Homo sapiens: one gene and its partners. The protein of the gene in region 1 interacts with the protein of each later gene in a pairwise test. Each region holds a gene or a part of one and is shown on either strand. Other genes may lie near its edges. The genes, in order: ACBD7, MESD and TEPSIN.

Region 1 (7,642 bases):
CATCACAGAAAAGCAGTATGCTAAGAAGTATTAACATCGACCCATGATATTATCTACTAATAATGCATTTGCGTGTCAACAATATTGGGGGAAGGTAACTTTTTTTTTTTTTGAGATGGTGTCTTGCTCTGTTGCCCAGGCTGGAGTGCAATGGCGTGATCTTGACTCACTGCAACCTCCACCTCCCAGATTCAAGCAATTCTCCTGCCTTAGCCTCCTAGTAGCTGGAATTACAGGTGCCTGCCACCACGGCCGGCTAATTTTTGTATTTTTAGTAGAGACAGGGTTTCACCATGTTGGCCAGGCTGGTCTTGAACTCCTGACCTCAAGTGATCTGCCTGCCTCAGCCTCCCAAAGTGCTGGGATTACAGATGTGAGCTACCACGCCCAGCTGAAAGTAACTTTTAAAAATGACAACTAATAACTGGCTGACATATTGAAATCTCTTCTGTCTTTATTACCTCACTGGCATGTGCGGGGATCATATTGGTACTAGTGTTCTGCCAAGATGCTCACTGAGTGGAAATGAGAGGAAAGGTGACTAGTTCAGGGTCCCCAGTCTTCTATTTATTTACACAAGAATAAGTATACTGGCAGACTGTCATTGGAGTAGCAAAACAAATGGAATTTCTAATTCGGCTATAGCCTCCTGATTTTATCTGAAAATTACAATATGTTTCCATCCTCACCAAAGCATTTAGGAGAGCTGATGTTTATCCTAAATGGACAAATTTCTTTCCTAGATGATGAAGCTAAAAAACAGACTTCTTCCTCTAGAATATGTATCTTTTCAAGTCTAGGGTACTGATGATTTTAACAACTGGCAAAAAAAGACTAACCTCTTCCCCCAGCCCACATTTGTGTGACCTAAGAACCCTGCAGTTCCTTGAGTGTGAGAATTTTTTATCTTCTTAATTGGGTTGCTCAATGGGAAAGAATTGCTCAAGAAGACCTTGCCAACCCCCTATGTGGGATGACCATGTTCATTGCAGAAAGTAAAGTCAGGTGAGGTGAGAGCCACCCTCGGAGGCTGTCTTCAGCGGGGCTGAAATGTGAAAGGTAATTTACACAGCAGCCCGCCTAGTCAGCACGGAAGGATGCACCCAGGATGTACCCAGTGTGAGTGATGCTGGCGTAACTTCTACGCCAAAGGTGGGGTGAGGGAGCCTAGTGTCAAAAGTTGAACAGGAGAGAGTCCAGGGAGGGGCTGTAGTAGCCTTAAGGCAGTTTGTCTTGCAGAATCCCAAGCTCGGGTGACCGGGAGATAATGCACAAAACATTCAACCAGGATGCCGAGGACCCCTCGCTCAGGAGAAATCAGCTCAGCATTGGCTGCAGTTCCTGCCAAAGGCAGCAAGCCCAGCTCTGCAACAGGATACTGCAAAACTGTGATGCCTTTCTCTCAGGATGAGGCAGGAGAATAGGGTCTGGAGGCAGGGAACCTAAGGCCGATTCACACTGACTTTGTAGAACTAAATCAAAACCCCAACTTTCCACACCTATGTAATAAAAGGACCGGAGGCTACTCCCTTTGCAACCTCCTCCCCACTTTCTGTGTGGCAGATGGAAAATTGAAAGTATCTCTGACTGGTTGCTTTCTGCAACCAATCAGACATTTGCACAGGAATGTACCTTTGTAACTTCATTTCAGCCTCTGATTGGTTGCTTTCCCCAACCAGTCAGACTGATCGTGAGCCAAGTCTTTATTTGCATAGAAGTGTAACTTTGTAACTTCAGCCTCTGATTGCAGGCCGCTACTTCATTTACATAGGATGCACACCAAGTAACCAATGGGAAGCCTCTGGAGGGCGTTTAAGCACAGAAAATTCTGTAACAGGGATCTTGAGTCCCTGTGCTCGGCCTGCTCCCACCCTGTGGAATGTACTTTCGCTTTCAGTAAATCTCGGCTTTTGTTGCTTCATTGTTTCCTTGCTTTGTTTGTGCATTTTGTCCAATTTTTTGTTCAAAATGCCAAGAACTTGGGCACCCTCCACTGGTAACAAGAATGCTTTGGAATTCAATGTCCATGGCTCTATATTTAAAGCTGCATCTCACCTATGATAACTTTCTGATCCCCCTAAAGTCTGCTCGCTCGTTAACCATCCAACAAGGATGTACTTAATAGACTCAGACCAGGCTCACGCCACCCACCAGCAGTCCGTGAGGCCCCGTGGGTGCTGCCAAGGTGATTATTGATTGATTGTTTATTTATTGATTTGTGAGTATTTATGCAACCCCACATAGCCTTTATGTTGAGCTCTAGTAAGTTCTGTCCACACCGCTGGGAGCAGCTTTCCCTGCCCCTCTGCAGCCAACAATCGCAGACCCGATCCCATCTCATCTCAGGGATGGCTTTTTCCGTTCCGTACCTTCCCGTCTGTGCTACCTCCTGTGTTCCCAGAGCAACTGCTGCACCTTATTTGCAGCAAGTCCCCTGTGGTCACCGTTGCCCTGTTCATCTCCCACCAGGCTATGAGCGCCTTCAAGCACGCTGCCTTGTGCATGCCCATCTGCCTGGCAAAGGCCTGGCCTGTCGGAGGTGTTCAGTAAGTAGGTTTGTTAATTAGTATGAGCTGTGAGATGAACTCTGGGAGGGCAGACTCCATAGGATCAAATCAAGAATATTTTACATTCTTGGCCGGGCATCGTGGCTCACGCCTGTAATCCCAGCACTTTGGGAAGCAGAGGTAGGCAGGTCACTTGAGTTCAGGAGTTCAAGACCAGCTTGGCCAACATGGCAAAACCCTATCTTTATTAAAAATACAAAAAAATTAGCCAGGCGTGGTGGTGCATGCCTGTAATCCTAGCTACTTGGGAGGCTGAGGTGGGAGGATCGCTTGAACCAGGAGGTGGAGGTTGCAGTGAGCCGTGATTGTGCCGCTGTACTCTAGCTTGGACAACAGAGCGAGACTGTCTCAAAAAGAAAATTATATTCTTAATCATCCTTAACCCTAGCACAAAAAGAGGCTGATATTCTCTTTTTGTGGCCGAAGCTGCATCTTAGAGGAGCTTTGTTTGTTGCATCGAGTCCCAGGGCAGTGTGTCTCAAAGCTGGAAGTCAAACCTGAGTATCCTGGCCAAGGCCAATGTTGTTTGTACTCCAGCTCATCATGGCTGGGATGGGAAAGGCCTCCTGCAGGAAGGTGCATCAGAACAGCCCCTTAAGGCAGGAATGTATTGCACTGAGGTGCCAGAACCAGACAGGCTAGACAGAGAGAATGATGCTGGCCCCTGCTCTAGAACTGAGTTCCCTACCTAGGGAGGGAGAAAGAGCGGGGACCCCTGAAATGGCATGGGAAACTGTGTGAGGGCATAGCTCTTCTGTGCAGAGGGGTCCAGGACTTTCATTAGATCTTTTTTTCTTTTCTTTTTTCTTTTTTTTGAGACGGAGTCTTGCTCTGTCACCCAGGCTGGAGTGCAGTGGCAGGATCTTGGCTCACTGCAACCTCTGCTCCTGGGTTCAAACTATTTTCCTGCCTCAGTCTCCTGAGTAGCTGGGATCACAGGTGTGAGGCACCGTGCCCAGCTAATTTTTTGTATTTTTAGTAGAGACGGTGTTTCACCATTTTGGCCAGGCTGGTCTCGAACTCTTGACCTTAAGTGAGCCACCTCCCTCAGCCTCCCAAAATGCTGGGATTACAGACGTGAGCCACTGCACCCAGCCCTCATATGGGTTTTCAAGAAGGCTTAGAATTCTAATTAAGGCTTGGCACCTCAAAAGGAGTCGAGTTGCTGTCACTGGAAAATAATATGAGACTTTACAGCAAGCAGAACACCTGAGATGGCCTATAAACCTACAGAGGAAGGTCCTACACCCCTTCTGCATAGCCTTGCCCTCAAGCAGCTCAGCCACTCATGTAGCATTTCAATTTTGTTCTTATTATAAACACAATCCATGCACATTATAGAAGATTTGGAGAGTACAAAAATATTTTAAAACTACATAACTTGCCAGTAATCAGAGGCAATTACTGTTTACATATCTTTAGTATACATCTTTCTAGTTTTTATTTTTTCTATACTACTTACAAAGCTGAGTGTATAAAAAGAATTTGTGTTCTTTGCTAAACCATAAACTAAAAGTATTTCTTATGTCTTGCTTTATTGCAAGTACCTTTTTTTTTTTTTTTTTTTTGAGATAGTCTTGCTCTGTTGCCCAGGCTGGAGTGTAGTGGCATGATCTCGGCTCACTGCAACCTCTACCTCCAGGGTTCAAGCGATTCTCCTGCCTCAGCCTCCCGAGTAGCTGGGATTACAGGCATGTGCCACTATGCCCAGCTAATTTTGTATTTTCAGTAGAGACGGGTTTCTCCATGTTGGTCAGGCTGGTCTCAAACTCCCAACCTTAGGTGATCCACCTGCCTTGGCCTCCCAAAGTGCTGGGATTACAGGTGTGAGCCACTGCGCCCAGCCTGGTCACACAGCTCTTAAGAGATGGAGTTGAGATTCCAATCAAGGCAGTCTGGCTCCAGAGCCATGTTCTTAACCATGGCATTATGTATAAAGCAGCCAAGAGTTTCTTAGGAAGACACTCAGAAGACAAGGCACCCCTTGTTCCATGCCCCGTGCTTCTCAGTCCCCTGTGGGAACTGGGTAGGAGGATGGGCCACGTTCAAGGTTATTTAGGCTGAAGACCCTGATCTCCAACTTACAGGTGATTGTGCTCTTCACAAAACAACTGTTCTGGTTGTGCTACTGTTCGTGGACCAAGCTGAGAGCCCGGCTGCTTACTCTCTCAGCTCAATAACGAGATGCAGATAAACTGGGAGAGAAGAGATTTGATTTCTGTAGCTGGGTGCAAGGAGAAGGACTGCAAATTATTGCGAAGCCAACTCAAAATTACAGAGTTTTCCAGAGCTTATATGCCTGCTAAGTTATATGTCTGCATGTAAGTGTGCGTTCATCTAAAACCTTAAGTGATGAACTTCTTCTAATATATAACTAAGGGCTGAGATCTGAAGACCTTCCTCTGGAGCCTCAGTAAATTTACTTAATCTGGATGGGTCCAGGTGCTGCAGTGATTACCCTTATCTTATTTCCTGCTAAATCATGGAGGGTTGGGGAGTTCCTTCAGACCCCAATAAAACTTGTTTAATCCTAAATGGGTCCTGTTAAGAATTCCTTCATTATCTTGTCATGCCTCAAGCCCCAGGAAGGGCCTGGGCAAAACTCTTGGTGGGCTTTTGTTACCTTGGAGTCTTCGTATGAGGGCACTTGCTCTTTCTGCTTTTAGTATTTAACGTTAACCACTCAGTCAGTGCTGAAACGGTTGTTATGGAGGCCTGCCTGTTTAGCCATTAGGGAAACCTGGCCTGCCACAGTACTGCCTGTCTTTGGGGCTGGAAGGAAACTTGACCCTGCCACTCCGCTGAGCCCGCAGGGTACTGAGGTTACAGTGGGGCTATCCACTTTCTCTCCTAGGCCTTTGGATCCAAAGGGAGCTCTGGCATCAGAGAAGAAGTATGGGGGGCAGGGGGTGGCCAGCATATGTCCTTGAACTTCCCCTGTTTGACAGCCAGCCTACTGACAATTCCTGCTTATCCTGAGTTTTAAAAAATAAGGCAAGGTAAGACACAGTTTAGTTTAAAAATCTATAAAGGAAACTAATCACAAAGCTCTTTGTAGAGTATAAACTAAGAGGTTAGAAAGGGAAAAGGATAAAGATCCTGGGAACACTCAGGCTCTGGAGTAGACTGGACTTCCTTGTCTATTTCAGCCACTGGCTGAACCCTGGGCCAGCCTGAGGGTCTTGCGGGGTTAGGGAGGTCCCAGTTATCAGAGCTAACTCAGGACAAGGCTTAAACTACTTAAGTACATTTGGTTTTTTGTTTTTGTTTTTGAGACAGAGTCTCACTTTGTCGCCCAGGCTAGAGTGCAGTGGTGCTATTTCAGCTCACTGCAACCTCCGCCTCCCAGGTTCAAGCAATTCTTGTGCCACAGACTCCTGAGCAGCTGGGATTACAGGCACGCACCACCAAGCCCAGCTAATTTTTGTATTTTTAGTAGAGACAGGGTTTTGCTATGTTGGCCGGGCTGGTCTCGAACTCCTGACCTCAAGCGATCCCCCTGCCTCAGCATCCCAAAGTGCTAGGATTACAGGCATGAGCCACCACACCAGGCTTAAGTACATTGTATATAGAGTTTCCAGGAAGTCTAAAAACATACCACTCAAGCATATTGGTATACAAAGTTTTCCCTAATAAGCTCTAAATTGGCTAAACAACTCCTCTTTTCTAGAAATCAGTTGCAATAAATCTTATAATTTAGGTCTAGTGTGGAAAGGAATCTGTACAAGCAATTCAGCCAAATCAGGAATAGTGATTACCCTCAGAAACTGGCTAGGTCTAAATAATACTGATATTAAAGAATGTAGGCATGAGGGCACTGGAAGAGAAACGCCCTAGACGATGGTATTAACTGGTAGCGAAGCCCCTGCATGTAGTAAAGTTGGACTGAGGCAGAAGAGGAAGGGCGCATCTGCGAGGTGATTGAGAAACCTTCAATGAGTATAAATAATGCCAAAAAAAAAAAAAAAGAAAAGCAGCTGGGCACGGTGGCTCACACCTGTAATCCCAGCACTTCGGGAGGCCAAGGTGGGTGGATCACAGGGTCAGGAGTTCAAGACCAGCCTGGCCAAGATGGTTAAACCCCGTGTCTACTAAAAATACAAAACTTAGCCAGGCGCGGTGGCAGGTGCCTATAATCCCAGCTACTCGGGAGGCTGAGGCAGGAGAATGGCATGAACCCAGGAGGCGAAGGTTGCAGTGATCCGAGATCTTGCCACTGCACTTCAGCCTGGGCAACAGAGTGAGACTCAGTCTCAAAAAAAAAAAAGCAAACTCACCATCAGGTTCAGTGGCTCACGCCTGTAGTCACAGCACTTTGGGAGGCCGAGGCAGGGGGATCACTTGAGGTCAGGAGTTCAAGACAAGCCTGGCCAACATGACAAAACCCCATCTCTACAAAAAATACAAAAATTAGCCGAGTGTGGTGGTGCACCCCTGTAGTCCCAGCTACTTGGGAGGCTGAGGTAGGAGAATGGCTTGAGCCCCAGAAGTAGAGGTTGCAGTGAGTGGAGACGGTGCCACTGCACTGCACTCCAGCCTGGGCGAGAGAGCCAGACCTTGGCTCAAAAAAAAAAAAAAAAAAAGAAGTTAAACCGAACATTTTCTGTATTAAGAATTTTCTATAGTTCCTCATATTAGGTAAGTCCCAGGAGAGGTGAACTCCTAGGAATTCAAGTAAATTAAGATGATTCTGATAGAACCAGAGCAGCAGAAGTTCATTTCTACTTGGAACCTTCCTCTTCCTGCTCTTTGAGTTCCTATTCCTTGGTGGTAAAATGCTCCTTTTGTTTGTTTGTTTGTTCTTCCTTTAGGCTGATTTTGACAGGGCTGCAGAAGATGTGAGGAAGCTGAAAGCAAGACCAGATGATGGAGAACTGAAAGAACTCTATGGGCTTTACAAACAAGCAATAGTTGGAGACATTAATATTGGTATTATATATTATTAATATTAATATATTCATATGTTACAATTAATATATTAATTGCGATTATAATATATAATTACTTAAAATATAGTAATATACTCCGTTTGAACAATGTCTATAGAAGTGCACAGTAAAATGTTAACCTGCAAA
Region 2 (8,040 bases), on another chromosome or scaffold:
GCTGAGGCAGGACAATTGCTTGAACTGGGGCCCGGGAGGCAGAGGTTGCAGTGAGCTGAGATCGCACCACTGCACTCCAGCCTGGGCTACACAGTGCAACTCTGTCTCAAAAAAGAAAAAAAAATGCAAAAATTAGCCAGGTGTGGTATGGGAGGCTGAGGCGGGAGGATCCCTTGAGCCTGAGAGGTGGAGGTTGCAGAGAGCCAATATCTGGCCGCTGCACTCCAGTCTGGGTGACAGAGCAAGACCCTGTCTCAAAAAAACAAACAAACAAAAACAACACACCACCACTGACGTATGTTAGATGTGAAGAAAAATAGAAAATACAGAGAAAAGGTTAAAATATTTTGGAATCTCACTGCTTAGAGACAGCCATCGTATACATATTTGCAGCTCTTTTCCTATACATAGATATATATCTGTATAATTTTAATAGCATTTAAAATCATATAGTATAAAATGAATATCTTTAGTAGCAACAAATATATATATTTGATTGCATATTATCCATCATATGTGTGGAATACAGCTTGCAACTGTAAATGTAGATTTTATAGTCTACAATTTTTGAAACACTTAGAGTTGTTCTCATTTTCCCCACTCATGGAGAGTGTTATAGGATTGTTACATTGGGTAAGTGAAGAAATACACGGAAAGCACTCAGCAGAATGCCTGTCGAATAGTAAGTGCTCAATATTAACATTACTATTATTTTCATTGTCTGTTTCCTCAGAGTCAAGTTCTTGGAAGTAGACTTGCTAATCATATTATGCACTTTTTTGTGGGGAGGGGGAGTTGATACATTTCACCTAATTTTCAAGCAGAAAACTCCATCCCCCGAGAAGTGAGTGAGAAGACTTCTTTCCTTAGCCTTGTCAACAGTGTATACTGTCTGTATTTTTATCCAGGATCAACTGATAATTTAAAAATTATAACATGTTTGAATTTGCATTTTTTGATATTAGAGAGATTCTGTGTTTTGTTTTGTTTTTGCCACATGTGAACTGGCCATTTATATTTATTCTTTTGGGAATTACCTATTCATGTCCTAGACCGTTTTTCATTTGGTTGTTCATCTTTTTCTTATTGATTTATAAGTTGTTTTTTTTTTTTGGAGACAGAGTGTTACTCTGTCACCCAGGCTAGAGTGCAGTGGCACAACCTCGGCTCACTGCCACCTCTGCCTCCCGGGTTCAAGCAATTCTCCTGCCTCAGCCTCCCGAGTAGCTGGGATTACAGGTGCATGCCACCACACCCAGCTAATTTTTGTATTTTTAGTAGAGACGGGGTTTCACCATCTTGGCCAGGCTGGTCTCAAACTCCTGACCTCAGGCGATCTGCCCGCCTCAGCCTCCCAAAGTGCTGGGATTATAGGCATGAGCCACCATGCCCAGCCAGGAAAACACAATTTTAATTATTATGTTTAACTCTGTGAGTATGCTCTTCTGCCCAAAAATAATGGTGGTGACCAGGAATGGACACCTGCCTCAGACTGGGCCAGTCACATTCTCTACTGAAAATCTGAAATTCCAACAAAAGGCAACGAGTTAGTTGCTACCAATATTTAGCAACTACAATGAATGATTCGTGTCTATGTAATTAAATTTTTTAAGTGAGTAAATTTAGGGGCTGGTAAAACCCAGGAAGTATGCAGTACGTCTATTCTTACATTGGATTAAAAAGCAACAAAAGTGCAAAATGGTAAATACTCATTACCTCTCTCAGCCCATCCCCAGGCCTCTCCTCCTATGCCTTCCCATGAGTCAGTCATTAGAGGGTTAATGTTTGGCACAATGGTGACTGTACCCATCAGCTCATCTGCCTCAGTTCTGATTAACTGGTAATTGTGCTACTCCAGTTTTTCAACATTTTGAATATTACCCCCGCCTGCTTCCAAATAGTACTAGAAAGTCTTGCTTCACCCTCCTCTGTTGTGGAATGATGCATGCCAGGATGAGCTCAGGTTAAGACACTAATTAGATCTGAGATTCAACTTTACCATCCACAGTCACTGAATCACTTAGAGGTGGGGTTAGTATTAACCCCAGAGCACTGAAGAGACTTGTGGCTTCACTTAGGCCATGAGCACACAATCTTTCACATCTGTCCTCTCCAGTCTACACTGCACCACCTGGTACCTGGCACAGACTCTTGTCCCATCTGAGTGCTCCTCGCTCCAGACTTTTCAATGCATTTTCCATTTGGCTCCCAATTTAACCATCCTGAGTGCCTCACTGATTAACCTAGATGGTGCTGTGGCGGAAGAAGGACTCCAAGAAGACTGGACCTTGTTATCCAGTACACCTCGGCTTAGATTCTTGCCTTGCCGCTGCACTAGCTGTGCAGCCTCAGACAAATTGTGTAATTGTAAAACCAGGATTTCCTCTTATTTAAATTGGAGAGATTATCATCATCATCACATCATCCCTTTGGGCCCGGATCTCCTGTAATCTGCATGAAATTTACTGCATATTGTTTATCTGCTCTGCCAGAGTAAGGATATTGTTATATTCATTTTTGCATCAGTGCCTCACCTGATTCTTGGTTAACAATAGGTCTTTGGTAAATAAAATTCCCCCCAAGTTGAATGGAATCAAGTTCCAAACACTAAAGTAAGTTTCAAATATCCAAATGTTGAAAATGCAATTGATCCAGATGTTTTCATATCAGTGGATTATATGCCGAATTGATTTCCTCCTTAGAGGAAAGTCAGTAGCCCTGAAACTTTCTACACATTCCCAACAATTTCTGTAAAACTTTCAATGATCTTATTCTCTATAACTAGATATGTGGGCCAAGAATCCCAACACGTTTGCCCCTTAACTTTGAAGCTGGCAATATGAATTACCAGGGTGACCCCTCCCAGTAGAGCACATGATCAGCCACAGCTGTGCATGTTTTTTAGTATGACTGCACTAGGATAGGGCTCCAAGCCACTGGGTGGAGCAATGTGCTCTGGGGAGAAAGCTCATGACATTTCCCCTATGATTTCACAAAAGAAAAAATCTTTTTCTTATGAGTTGTTTCTGCTCAACGTCAATAGGAAAGGTCATAGCTTAGCGTGTTTACATACAGATGCATGCATGAATATGTAGAATATCAGCCACTCCTACGGTGTGAGAGAATTTAAATTGCACTGGTCCTAAGAGTGAAGGAAAGCAGGCGTAGTTGCCTACTCAACCTCCACTTTATTCTTTTCCCTTTATAACAATCCTAATTTCATTTGAGATGACAATGTATACAGCTAGAAGACAATTTCTCAGCCTCCCTTGGAGAGCTAGGTTCCAGCCAATGAGATGTAAACAGAAATGTATGCAATGTTCAAGTAGGCTGCTTAAAAGAAGTTGACTCCACTTGAAAGGTGTGCTTGGTTTGGCCTGCCTTCTCCCTTCCTCTGGTTGAATGTCATCTTGATGACTGGAGCTCCAGGAGCCATCCTGGAATTTCTGACCTTGAGGGTGGAAGCCACAGGCTAATATGATAGAAGGATGAGGAAGAGGCTGAGTACCAGATGGCTGAGAAGCCACTATACCAGCCCTAGTTTCGAGTTTACACTGCTTCTGTGAAAGAAAAGTCAATCACAATAAAACCTTTTATCTTGTTTAAACCACCTTAAAAAGTCAGTTTTCTTTTATATGCAGCCTACTAATCCTATCCAAACAAGGCTTGAATAAGGTTTACTACAGCTCTTTTTTGTTGTAATAGCAGAAAAATTGGTAATAAATGCCCATCAATAGGAAAATAAACTATTAATTTAACAATACCAAATAAAACTGTGCAGCAGTATAAAGAATGAAGCGTTTTTTGTTGTTGTTTTTGAGATGCGGGTCTTGCTTTATTGCCCAGTCTGGTCTCAAACTCCTAAACTCAAATTATCGTCCTACCTCAGCCTCCCAAAGTGCTGGGATTATAAAGGCTTAAGCCACCGTGCGGCCTTTGGTTTTTTTTGTTTTTTGTTTTTTAAGGTCTTATGTAATTAAACATTTTAAAGACATCAGCTGATGAGCCGTTTAAAACAAGAAGAATCTCAAAGCATCTTTGGCCAAAATCTTTTTAAGAAACAAAAAGTAGCGTGATTCAGCCTTGAAAAGGATTAGTTAGAGCCTACAGTATTAGGTTGAAATCAAAGAAAGGCAAGCTTTTTTTTTTTTGGATGAATAGTAATGATCTTTTTGGAAAAAAAAAACAAATATTGAAAGCTGGTTGAACTGAATCCTCTTTATTGATGAGGAAAGCAGTGGACTCGAACTATTTATGACTTTCTGAAAAAAGTTGCCCTACCTGCCACTCACTTCTTTTTAACTGGCTGTTCTCAAAGGAAATTGCAAGAGACTGAGGATAAACGTCCGACATCCAGAAATGGGCTTTTTTAGAGCCGAGGCAGCCTCCAGAACTTCCAGTTCCAATTTATTTCACAGGCGAGAAACTGAGGTCAACAGGGACGTTGGTTAGTGGTTCCTGGAGGCCCTGAAGGAACTTTTGGACCTGGCTTGTGCGTTCCAGAGAAAAAGGTCGGCCTCTGACGGAAAACGAAAAATGAGCACTCAGGGACCCACCCAGCCGGGACAGAGCGCCTCAGCCGGACCAAGAGGAGGAGCCAGTGGGGCGGGGCCAAAATGGCGGAGGGGCGGGGCTTCCAGAGGCGGGGGTTAGGAAATGGTACGGGGCGGGGCCCGGTAGGCTAGCGAGGGCCGGGAGGCGGGGCCTCGGAAAGGCGGACAGGAAGGCGTGTGCAAGGCGGGGTCCGGCCCGCGCAGGTCGGGTAAGCGCGTCTAGGGCGCTGCGCGGCGCAGCGAAAATGGCGGCTTCCAGGTGGGCGCGCAAGGCCGTGGTCCTGCTTTGTGCCTCTGACCTGCTGCTGCTGCTGCTACTGCTACCACCGCCTGGGTCCTGCGCGGCCGAAGGCTCGCCCGGGACGCCCGACGAGTCTACCCCACCTCCCCGGAAGAAGAAGAAGGATATTCGCGATTACAATGATGCAGACATGGCGCGTCTTCTGGAGCAATGGGAGGTCCGCGGCGCGCGCACACCCTCCCGGCTCTTCTCTGTGCGGGACCCTGTTCCCTATGACCCCTTACCTGTTCTGTCTTGGGACCTTTCTGACCCCCTAACCTCCTCTACTCATGCCTTGAATCCTTACTGACCCACTGAAGCCACTGTTGACCCTCCATTCCTCCTCTGACCCGCGCGCCCTGCTGACCCTCGCTCCAGCCCTCTGTCATTCCAGTGCCCTGTTCCTCCTGCCATTTCTCAAACCACTTCAATCACGGATCTGCCCCTCACTGTTCAGCTTTGCTCTCCCTTCACCCTTCAGTGCCCTGGTTGTCTTTGCGTTGATTCTTGTGGTCAGTGAGCCCTGCAAACAGGGAGAGTGACCTTTCCCAATCTACTAAAGAGCATTTCCTTCTGTTTTGCGGTGAGTGGGTGGGAGAGTGGGTTGCAGTGAAGATGGTCTTCCTTAATGGTTATCTCAGCTGTCTTCTAAATCAGTATAATTTTAGACTTCCTATTTTGGTATATGTCCCTGCTGGGAATTTTGTGCTTTTTGTGGGTGGATTTATTTTACTGAGGGGAGAAGTATCAATGGCTAATGGCTCTGTATCGTGAAACTCACGCTTTTTGTTCAAAGGAGAGTAAGTTTTCTGGTTTGTCACTTGGACGCACCGGAGTGTGCAGTTACAGGGAGTGTGTAATACGCTTTAAGGTAAAGATTACTGGCCAAAACCACATTGCTGCCTTTTCCCCTTCCTAAGGTGATTGTATCGTCCTGGTTGACTTGCATAGCTGTGGAACCTTGGGCAGGTTATGTCTAGTTTCTAGGCCTCGGTTTCTTTATCTGCAACATGAGGAGGTTAGGATGGGTCCTAAGATTCCTTCCAACACTGATGTTTTGTTATTTTGTGATTATCTCTGTGTGTGTTACGGGAGAAGGGAAAGACTTTCAGACAAGAGTTTAAAATACCACCTGATGCATCTGACTAGAAGAATGCAGGCTTGTGTTTTCATGTGGTCATCAACAGCTGATGGAAAGATTGGGATAGATTTGAGTGTAGAGAGAACGTCCCCATTCACCGTCTCCCTTGCAATCTCCTTGTCTCTTTTTGGACTCCAGCAAATAAAGCCTTTTGATCTGCCAGAGTGAGAACATCACCTCATGAGAAATCCTCCCCTTGACCTACTCAGACCCTGAGCTAGACGAAGAGGGTGCTGAAGAGATGAACAAAGATTGCACTGGGAACAGTAGATAACAGGATGGATGAGTGGGGAGAGACTTTGAAGGCCAAGAAAAACACATTATCTCATTTAATCCTTTTACCCCATCCATGAGGGAGGTACTTATCCCTATTTTCTAGATGATGACATTGAGACACAAAGAGGTTAAATAACTTGCTCCACATCGCACAGCAAGCTAGCTGAGTTTCAAATTCTTTCGCGACTTTTAGAGCCAGTTCTTTGAACTGTTTTACCTGTACTGCCACACATGTTGGTGACAGAAGTGCAAATGAAGGATAGTGAGGAAGACGTGGATTAAGCTAGAAACTGCAGGAGCAGAGTAGAAGGGAGAAATGTGAGATTTTTATACTTTTAACAGGACTTGATGGTTGATTTTGTTTTTTAAATTATTTTTTATAGAGACAGGGTCTCCTTATGTTGGCTGGGCTGGTTTTGAACTCTTGGCCTTTGCAGTCCTCCCACCTTGGCTTCCCAAAGTGTTGGGATTACGGGCGTGAGCCACCATGCCTGGGCAATTGATTGATTTTGTGAATAGCAGGGCCACATAATGTAGTAAAAAGACAGGTTGGCTGGGCGCAGTGGCTCACGCCTGTAATCCCAACACTTTGGGAGGCAAAGGCGGGTGCATCACCTGAGGTCAGGAGTTCAAGACCAGCCTGGCCAACATGGTGAAACTCCATCTCTACTAAAAATAAAAAAATTAGTTGGGCATGGTGGCGGGCACCTGTAATCCCAGCTACTTGGGAGGCTGAGGCACAAGAATCGCTTGAACCAGGGAGGTGGAGGTTGCAGTGAGCCAAGATCATGCCACTGCACTCCAGCCTGGGCGACAGGGTGAGACTCTGTCTCAAAAAAAAAAAAAAAGACAGATTTTGAACTCAGCTTTACCCCTCACTAGCTACTTCATCCTAGTTTTACGTATCTGTAAAGCCAGATAACGCCCTACTTTGCAGGGTGCCATGCGGATTAAATGAGTTAATGTTTGTAGACGCTCTACAGACATGAGGACTCTTCCCCAGTAGCAGTGTTTTTTATGTGGGAGAGCGTATCCATCTCTGTGGGTGCTTTTTTTGTAGGAAGCAGTTCTTCTCCTCTTGTGACCATCTCTAAATCCATACCCTCACTCCTTCCCCAGCAGTGTGAGAAACAGTGCTTCAGTGAGAGGCTGTGCCTCAGAGGTGTGGAGAGGTGAGAATTCCTTCCATTGTGTTACAACTAATTCTGAGTCCCAATTGGTGTAGAAAAACCAAAGGTGGTTATTACATTTTACATTATGATAGCCAGGTATAATGGGAAGAGGCAGTTGGAGGGATTTGGAGCCAGAAATGTGGTTTGCACTTCTAGCATGTGAGTAAATTAAGTAAATCATTTATCCTCTCTGAACATCATCTTCCTTGTATATTAAATGGAACCGGGTAGGATTGTTCTGAAGGTTGGAGATAATATATGTAGAGTGCCTGGGACTTAGTAGCTACTTAGTAGATGTCACTTATTATTAATATCAAGAACCATGGGAGGAAGAAGAGGATTTGCAGAAAGGGGAGCTCAGCTTTGTAGCTACTGACTTAGACAAACAGTAATGAAGGAGCTCTAAAGCCAGTTGAAAATGCAAGACTGGCCTGGAGGCAGGGCTAGGACTGGAGTCAGGGGACTGCCTGACTTGTCCCTGGCCCCCCGCTCTGCCTCAGGGTAAAGACTGGATTGTTTTCAGCATAAACACACTGATCATAACAGGTTAGGTTACCCAGACTAAGGGTAGAACTGGATAATTATGTACATCTAGGGTACTATTTTTACACTTCAATT
Region 3 (7,642 bases), on another chromosome or scaffold:
GATCCTGGCCCATCTCTGGCCTCTCCACCTGCTGCCCACCCTCACCCCAGCTGGCCGGCTCGGCCTCCCCTGACGCGCCCTGCCCCCTCCCTCCGCTGGGTCCTCCGTGCCTCCTATGCGTCCCTGGGCCTTTGGCTGCGTCTGTCCCTGCGCTTGCTGCCCCGGGTGCCAGTTTGTTTCTCTGTGTGCCCCACGGGTCTTCCCCCTCCATCCCAGTGCCCACACATAGCAGACTCAGTGCCTGTTCACACATCCTTCCCAGGCTGTGGGTTCCCCTTCTGGGGCTGCTCCTCGGAGCCCAAGACAGAGTGAGGCCATGGGAGGGCGGAGCTGGGAGGCAGGAGAGGCGGGGCCCCGGCCAGTCGGTCTGTCCAGGCAGAAGATGGGTCTGGGGGAGCTGTCCCCGCAGGCTTGGGGGCAGTCCCATGTGCCTCTGCCTAATGAGGACTTGTGGGGGCTTGGCCTGAGATCTTCCATGGGGTGGAGGGAGGCCTGGCTCCAGGTGGTCACTGGGCGCACCATGTCTGGACCCCACCCCAGCCCCTGAGTGGGGAATTCTGGGGAGGGAGACTGAGTCTGTCTCGTGCCACTGCTTGCTTGTGGAGACCTCAGGGTGTACCATCCACTGGGCTCACCCCAAAACCGGTGTCGAAACCAGTGTTGTCCCACTTTATGGCAAGTGGGCATGCAGCTCTAGGTGTTCCGCAGGGGCCAGTGCCCTGGGCCGCCATAGACAGTTGTGACACATGACTTAGGCAGTAGATGCCCCTGAGGGGACGGCAGTGCGGGGGTGCTCTCGCCATCCTCACAGAGCTCCTCACAGCTTTGGGGCCAAGGCAGCACCAGCCATTTATCCTCACCATTCAGCGGGCCAGAGGGCCCCGGGCTCCAGGCCACTCCCGTGGCTGTGGTTGGTGCATGTACGTCGTGGCCTCAGTGGTCTCGGGGACACGCCCTGGGGTGGGGGCTGCAGCAGGTAGGGGGATGGGGCACAGCAGGACCTGAGGATGGGAAAGGCTCTTCTTCAGACCCTGGGTTCTTGTCGGCACCAGAGTCTCTCCTGTGCAGAGGCAGCTATGGATGATGGCTGTTGCCTGCCGTGCCTGGACACTGGCCCTGGGTGACACACAGGCTGTGGGAGGTGTCAGGACAGGCCCTGTGAGGAAAGTGGGTGCCAGATGCCACACGTGAGAGACGGGGCGCCCTGCTCCAGGTGGTGGGTGTGCAGTGAGGATGGCCTGCCCCACGCGCGCAGAGCGTCAGAAAGAGGAAAGAAAACGCAGCTGGCAGTTACAGACAGATTTTCTTTAGTTAAAACCTGAGAGGCACCCCCAGCCGATTGCGGTCAGGAGCACTTTATCTTACAGACTGAATGTTGGTTTTAGGATGAGAGGGCTTATCAGAAGCTCGGAATGTTTATGTGTGTGGAGAAGTTTATGGCAGGGTTGGAAGGAGGGAAGGTTATCTTGGGGCAGGCATCTTTTCAGCCTGGAGGTGGGTTTTCTCGAAGCTGGCATCTTCCCGGCTGGAGAAGGGTTATCTTGGGGCTAGCATGTCTCTGGTTGGGGAGGAGTTTGGAATGTTTCTGGTTGGAGATGTTATTTGTGGTTCATGGTCGTGCTGACCTTAGCCATTAGGCTGATGCCCTATGGATTTAGGCAGTTTTTGGTTAAGGTGAACTTTAGAATGAGGGGCTTGTCCAAGATGGTGATGCTCCTGCTCTGTCACAGAGCAGGGGCAGCGTGGGGTGGCAGGTGGGTGCCCTGGGCTCCTGCAGGGAAGATGGCAGCCTCAGGGTGTCAGTTCATCCAGCCATTGACTCAGCTTGTGGCCGCCAGCCCTGGGCCCAGGGACAGCCAGGAGCATCGTCTCCGAATCACGGGACCAGCCTGCCAGGGTGGAGGTAGACGGCCGAGGGGCGTGAGTGGATTCGCCTGTGACAGAGGCTCTCGAGGGGTTCTCAGAGGCACAGCTCTCAGCCTGAGCCCTGAAAGGATGCCGCGGCCCCAGGTGTAGGCTTGGGGGGCCCTGGGGCCGGAAGATTTAAGGAAAGAAGCCCCAGTTCATCATGACAGGAACTCTCAGAGCAGGGGAGCTCGAGGCGGCTGAGACTGGGGTTGGGTGGGGCTAGGTGGAGCTTTCAGGCTGTGATAAGAACGCTGGTTTCTCCCTCCAGGCCCCGGAAGCCTCTGAGGGGTCCCTGGTGCACCTGGGGCAGGGAGAGTGGGCTTCGGGGAGGCCACACCCGCTCAGGCACCAGGGGTTGCCGACCCTGGGGGAGACGAGGTGGTTGCTGTGGAGAGAGTCTCGCCTCTGTGGGGCATGGGTGAGGGGGAGCTGAGGGTCTGCTCAGGTGTGGCCTCTGCAGGGTCCTGGAGGAGGGCATCCCATTGGCTGTGACAGAAGGGCCTTGGTGGCAGGAACTTGCCACCCTGGAGTGGGCCCAGGGCACCGTGCTCCACAGGGAGCAGCGGTGCCAGGCTCAGCCCTGCCCCCGACTTGCCTTTTCTGTTCTGCAGCTTTTGCAGGGCCCCCAGATCCTCTGCACGGGAACAGCTTGTACCAGAAGGTTCGCGCGGCCGCGCAGGTGAGCCCAGGAGCAGTGTCGCTCTGCGGGGTGCCCCTCCTCCTGTAGAGGGGTGGGATTGGGGCCAGGATGTCAGCTGGGGGGTTTGCAGTTCTCCCATCCGGGACCCCTGCCTCTGCTCCTTGCTGGTGGACACAGAGCCTGTGTCCAGCTGAGTGGCTCAGGAGAAGTGTCCGGGGGACAGAACGGAGCTGATATGGGTGGCAGGGTGAGTACAGCAGGCCCTGGTGTGAGGACACTGAGGGCCTTCGCCTCCCCCTGTAGGACTTGGGGAGCACCCTGTTCTCGGACACCGTGTTGCCGCTGGCTCCCTCCCAGCCTCTGGGGACCCCGCCTGCCACAGGTAGGTGACTGAGGGGACCGTGTCCAGCTCTGGCACCTGGTTTCTGCCTCCTTGAGTGTCCTGGGTGTCTGTGCCATCCGTGGGCAGGGCCGAGGGTGGGGGCCGGCTTGCTGCTAACGGAGGACCCTCTGCAGGCATGGGCTCCCAGGCCAGGCCGCACAGCACCCTCCAGGGTTTCGGCTACAGCAAGGAACACGGCCGCACGGGTGAGTGGGGAGGGCCTGCATGGGCTCTGGCATCTCAGGGTGTGGGGATGAGGAGGTGGTGGGGGCCGGACCATGCCGCCCCATCTAGTAGCTGCTGTCCCCCGTCCCCTCCCCTACATGGCCTCAACCCTTCCTGGGGCTGTCCCCACTGTCTCTCTCTGGCTGCTGACGTGGGGGTGGGGCAGGTGTGGCCAGGGCTGCTTTATGGACAGATGAGAGAAACCAGGCCGAGCAAGAAGTCAGGGCTGGGCCCCGTGGCAGGGGTGAGTCCCACTCTGAGAGGGGCCGAGGGCTGTGCCCCTGGCTGTGGTGCAGGTGACTCAGGCAGTCCCGTGTGGAGCTGTTATGAGGTGGGGCAGTACCAGTGGACAACTGCTCACCAGCGCCAGGAGAGCCACAGGTGGCACCACTGCCTGCGGCTGGGACCCAGCCCCCAGCCCAGCTGTGCCCTGCTGCCGGGCCCTGGGCGGTGTGTAGCTGCTCACCGTTAGGCTGTGTCACGCCGTCCTGCGCACAGCCTGGGGCTCCTGCCGACACTTTGGTGTCGGGGCAGCTTCTACAGGGAACTCACACAGGAAAGGCCGGCCCCTCCCCGAGCCCTGGACACACCCTCCCTGAGCCAAGGCCAAGCCCAAGCCCCTTAGGACACCTTCACCCCCAGAGGACAGAGGGACGGAGGCATAACTCTGCAGTGAGCTTTGGTGTCCAGGCCCACTGGGAGTGGGAATGCCAAAGCGGAGTCCACTGGGAGCTTCCAGAGGGCCTGGGGCCCACCAGGAGGCCTCCCTACCTGCAGCATGTACCCCGACCTCTCCAAGCTTGAGCAGGGAGCCGATGCGGGCACCCTGCTCCCAGAGAACGCGGGTGGGGGCCGCACTGGGCGGCCGTCCCATCTCCCTCTCCTCGGGTACAGGCTCGGCAGGCGAAGCCTTCCTCTCCACCATCCAGAAGGCCGCAGAGGTGGTGGCCAGCGCCATGCGCCCCGGGCCCGAGAGTCCCAGTACCCGGAGGCTCCTGCCGCGGGGTGACACCTACCAGCCTGCCATGATGCCTTCAGCCAGCCACGGTCCCCCAACCCTGGGGAACCTACTCCCCGGGGCCATTCCAGGTCCCCGAGGTATCGAGGCGAGGGCTCCTCCCCTTGGGGTCTGGGTCACTCCTTCCTGTCACCGCTGGGGCTTTGCGGCCACGGAGGCAAATCCCAGGGCCTCCCACACAGCAGGAGGGGTGGGACCCGCGGCGGAAGCACATGCCCATGGGGCTGGTGTTTGCTGAAGCTGGAGCCAAGGTGGCCACCCATCCTCAGCTCAGGACTCAGCCCCCGAGGCCTCCTGGTCCAGGGCCCCGGGAGGTGGGCATGGGGCTGGCCTGAAGCCCCAGGGATCTCACCGGCTGTCCTGTTTCCTCCAGCTGTGAGGCATCAGCCTGGGCAGGCCGGAGGGGGCTGGGATGAGCTGGACAGCGGCCCCAGCTCTCAGAATTCCTCCCAGAACAGCGACCTGAGCAGGGTCTCGGACTCGGGCAGTCATTCCGGCAGCGACAGCCATTCAGGGGCCAGCCGGGAGCCGGGTGACCTGGCAGAAAGGTGAGCGGGAGCTGCCAGATATGTGGGAGAGGTCTCGGAGGCACCACACTGTCCCCCTCCCAGCGCGGCTCCTGCTCTCCAGGTTCTCCCCCATGCGAGACAGGAGTGGGGGCATGGCCTCCACTCACCCTTGACCCGGCCATTCCCCCTGGCAGGGTCGAGGTGGTGGCCCTGAGTGACTGTCAGCAGGAGTTGAGCTTGGTGAGGACTGTGACTCGGGGACCACGCGCCTTCCTGAGCCGCGAGGAGGCACAGCACTTCATCAAAGCGTGAGTGCGCCCGGACCCGCCCTGCTCTGCCTCAGCCCCAACCGTGGGCGAGGGAGGAGGGAACGGGCCGCACCCGCCACCCAGGTGTCCCCTCTGTGCAGGTGTGGACTGCTCAACTGTGAGGCCGTGCTGCAGCTGCTGACCTGCCACCTGCGTGGGACCAGTGAATGCACGCAGCTGGTGAGCTGCACACGCGGGCGGGAGGGCGTGACTGTGTGCATGTGCCTGTGTGCGTGTGTGTGCGTGTGCGTGTGTGTGCACGTGTGCCTGTGTGCACACCTGTGTGTGAACATTCCTCTGTGTGGCTGTGCGTGCGCACATGCCTGTGTGTGTGCGTGTGGGTGTGTATGCCTGTGTATGTATGCCTGTGTGTGTACACACTCGTGCATGTGTGCGGTGTGTACACACTTGTGCACGTGTGTGGTATGCACACATCTGTGTGTGTGTGTACATGACTGCATGTGTGTGGTTGTGTATGTATGTGCCTGTGTGTGTGTGCATGCACATGAAAGTGTGGACACGTGTGTGCGTGTGTCGGGGGGCGTGCGGAGGAATGAAGGTAAGGCAATCGGGGCAGCAGGTCACGTGCTTCTCGCTGGGGTCTGTCCAGGAGCCGGGGAGGACATGGCTCTGGTGTCCGGGAGCTGGGGTGTAAGGCGGTGAAGACAGGGCTCTGGTGTCTGGGAGCGGGGGTGTAAGGTGGTGAGGACAGGGCTGTGGTGTCTGGGATCCGGGGTGTAAGGCGGTGAGGACAGGGCTGTGGTGGAGCTGTCTCTGGGGCCTCCTGGCACTCCAGTCATTGATGAGGAGGAAGAAGAGGGAGAGAGATGGCCAAATAGGCCTCCCTGGCGTGGACCTGCTGCCCCATGGGTGCTGATGTCCCCTCCCTTCACCCGCAGAGGGCGCTGTGTGCCATCGCCTCCCTGGGGAGCAGCGACCTCCTCCCCCAGGAGCACATCCTCCTCCGCACCCGGCCGTGGCTGCAGGAGCTCAGCATGGGCAGCCCGGGACCTGTGACCAACAAGGCCACCAAGGTGGGCAGCTGCGGAGGCCACACGCACACCGGGGTCCAAGGGTACAGTGGGAGATACGCTGCAGTCCACGGCCACCCCGTCCCTGCCCGGCGCCTGGTCAGCCCTTCCCGGACCCCCTCTCAAGTCCCTGTCCCGCTGGCAGAGGGAGCAGCAGCAAGTCAGGGTCCTCACCTCCCCATTGCCTTCCCGCCTTCCACCCAAACTCTGCAGCACTCACAGTACACTGGCCTCTACCTATTCCTGGAAGCCCCCAGACTCCGCTGCCTTAATGTTCCTGCCCTTGTGTCTTGGCCTCACACTTACCTCTTCCAGGAAGCCCTCCCTGACTGCACATGCAGTTTGCCACCCATGACACAGCTCATGCTCAACTCCCAAGCTCCGGAGGGCAGAAATGGTTCCATTCATCTCTGTGCACTTGAACACTCTGAACTGCCTGGCGGCCACTGGAATCACACGGGGAGGCCTCTCCCGGCCGCCAGGCCCTGGCACCTTCCCTCTGCCTGTGGGCATTCCCAGCTTCTTTCTTCCTGTTTTCTCCCTGGCTGCTGGAAACACAGGTCCTCAGTCACCCATCCCCAAGTCATCCTTAACTGTCATTGGCCATCTGCTAGCTCACCTTTCAGTCAGAGCGACGAGTGAGCCTGGGGTTCGCACCACCGCAGGCGAACCTCATAGTGGGGTTTCTAAAACGGGCATGCTGGAAGAACCCTGCGTCCAACAGTTGGAAATGCCCAGATGTGCCAGGCCACGTGTTCACTCCCTCCGGCAGTGCCTGGCGGGTTATGACGGGGAGGGTGTCCATTTGTCTAGTAGTGAGTAAAGGAGCAAGATTCGAGGTGTGTATGTGACACCTGCCCCGTGTCGCCAGCACCAGCCCAGCAGCTGCTCTCGGTGGGATGACAACTGGGTGCACTGCCCCAGCCCCTCCCAGCAGCCGGTGTCCTGCCCAGAGGTGGCCCTGCCCTCTGGGTGGAGGGACTGAGGAGGTCCTAGGGAGAAGCGGGCCCTGGTCCCCACATTTCCCAGGGTTGCATAGGAACCTCCCTGGTTCCTCCTTCCTCTTTCAGATCCTGAGGCACTTTGAGGCCTCCTGTGGGCAGCTGTCCCCTGCCCGGGGCACCTCAGCTGAGCCTGGCCCCACAGCCGCCCTCCCAGGCCCATCTGACCTGCTGACCGACGCTGTGCCTCTCCCTGGGAGCCAGGTCTTCCTGCAGCCTCTGAGTTCAACCCCGGTCTCGTCCCGGAGCCCTGCTCCCTCATCTGGGATGCCGTCCAGCCCTGTGCCCACCCCACCCCCAGATGCCTCCCCCATTCCAGCCCCCGGAGACCCCAGCGAGGCCGAGGCCAGACTGGCAGAAAGCAGGCGGTGGAGACCTGAACGGATCCCAGGGGGCACGGACAGCCCAAAGAGAGGCCCCAGCAGCTGTGCGTGGAGCCGCGACTCCTTGTTTGCTGGCATGGAGCTGGTGGCCTGTCCCCGCCTGGTGGGGGCTGGGGCTGCTGCGGGAGAGTCCTGTCCTGATGCTCCCCGCGCCCCCCAAACATCGTCCCAGAGGACAGCAGCCAAAGAGCCTCCTGGCTCAGAGCCGTCAGCTTTCGCGTTCCTGAACGCCTGACC

The links.
Region 2: the proteins of ACBD7 (region 1) and MESD interact in binary tests that used the Homo sapiens proteins (3 or more experiments, as listed by UniProt).
Region 3: the proteins of ACBD7 (region 1) and TEPSIN interact in binary tests that used the Homo sapiens proteins (3 or more experiments, as listed by UniProt).

What each region holds. Positions count from the first base shown.
Region 1 is NC_000010.11:15,078,777-15,086,418, reverse strand, and holds part of ACBD7 (acyl-CoA-binding domain-containing protein 7), read left to right. Parts: intron 1-7,378; coding exon 7,379-7,496; intron 7,497-7,642. UniProt on the Homo sapiens protein: Binds medium- and long-chain acyl-CoA esters.
Region 2 is NC_000015.10:80,986,550-80,994,589, reverse strand, and holds the start of MESD (LRP chaperone MESD precursor), read left to right. Parts: upstream 1-4,770; 5' UTR 4,771-4,798; coding exon 4,799-5,011; intron 5,012-8,040. UniProt on the Homo sapiens protein: Chaperone specifically assisting the folding of beta-propeller/EGF modules within the family of low-density lipoprotein receptors (LDLRs).
Region 3 is NC_000017.11:81,228,926-81,236,567, reverse strand, and holds part of TEPSIN (AP-4 complex accessory subunit tepsin), read left to right. Parts: intron 1-1,284; exon of another isoform or gene 1,285-2,519; coding exon 2,520-2,587; exon of another isoform or gene 2,588-2,629; intron 2,630-2,851; coding exon 2,852-2,930; intron 2,931-2,966; exon of another isoform or gene 2,967-3,064; coding exon 3,065-3,136; intron 3,137-4,049; coding exon 4,050-4,253; intron 4,254-4,358; exon of another isoform or gene 4,359-4,546; coding exon 4,547-4,721; intron 4,722-4,876; coding exon 4,877-4,990; intron 4,991-5,091; coding exon 5,092-5,170; intron 5,171-5,889; coding exon 5,890-6,024; intron 6,025-6,327; exon of another isoform or gene 6,328-6,566; intron 6,567-6,640; exon of another isoform or gene 6,641-6,830; intron 6,831-7,091; coding exon 7,092-7,640; 3' UTR 7,641-7,642. UniProt on the Homo sapiens protein: Associates with the adapter-like complex 4 (AP-4) and may therefore play a role in vesicular trafficking of proteins at the trans-Golgi network.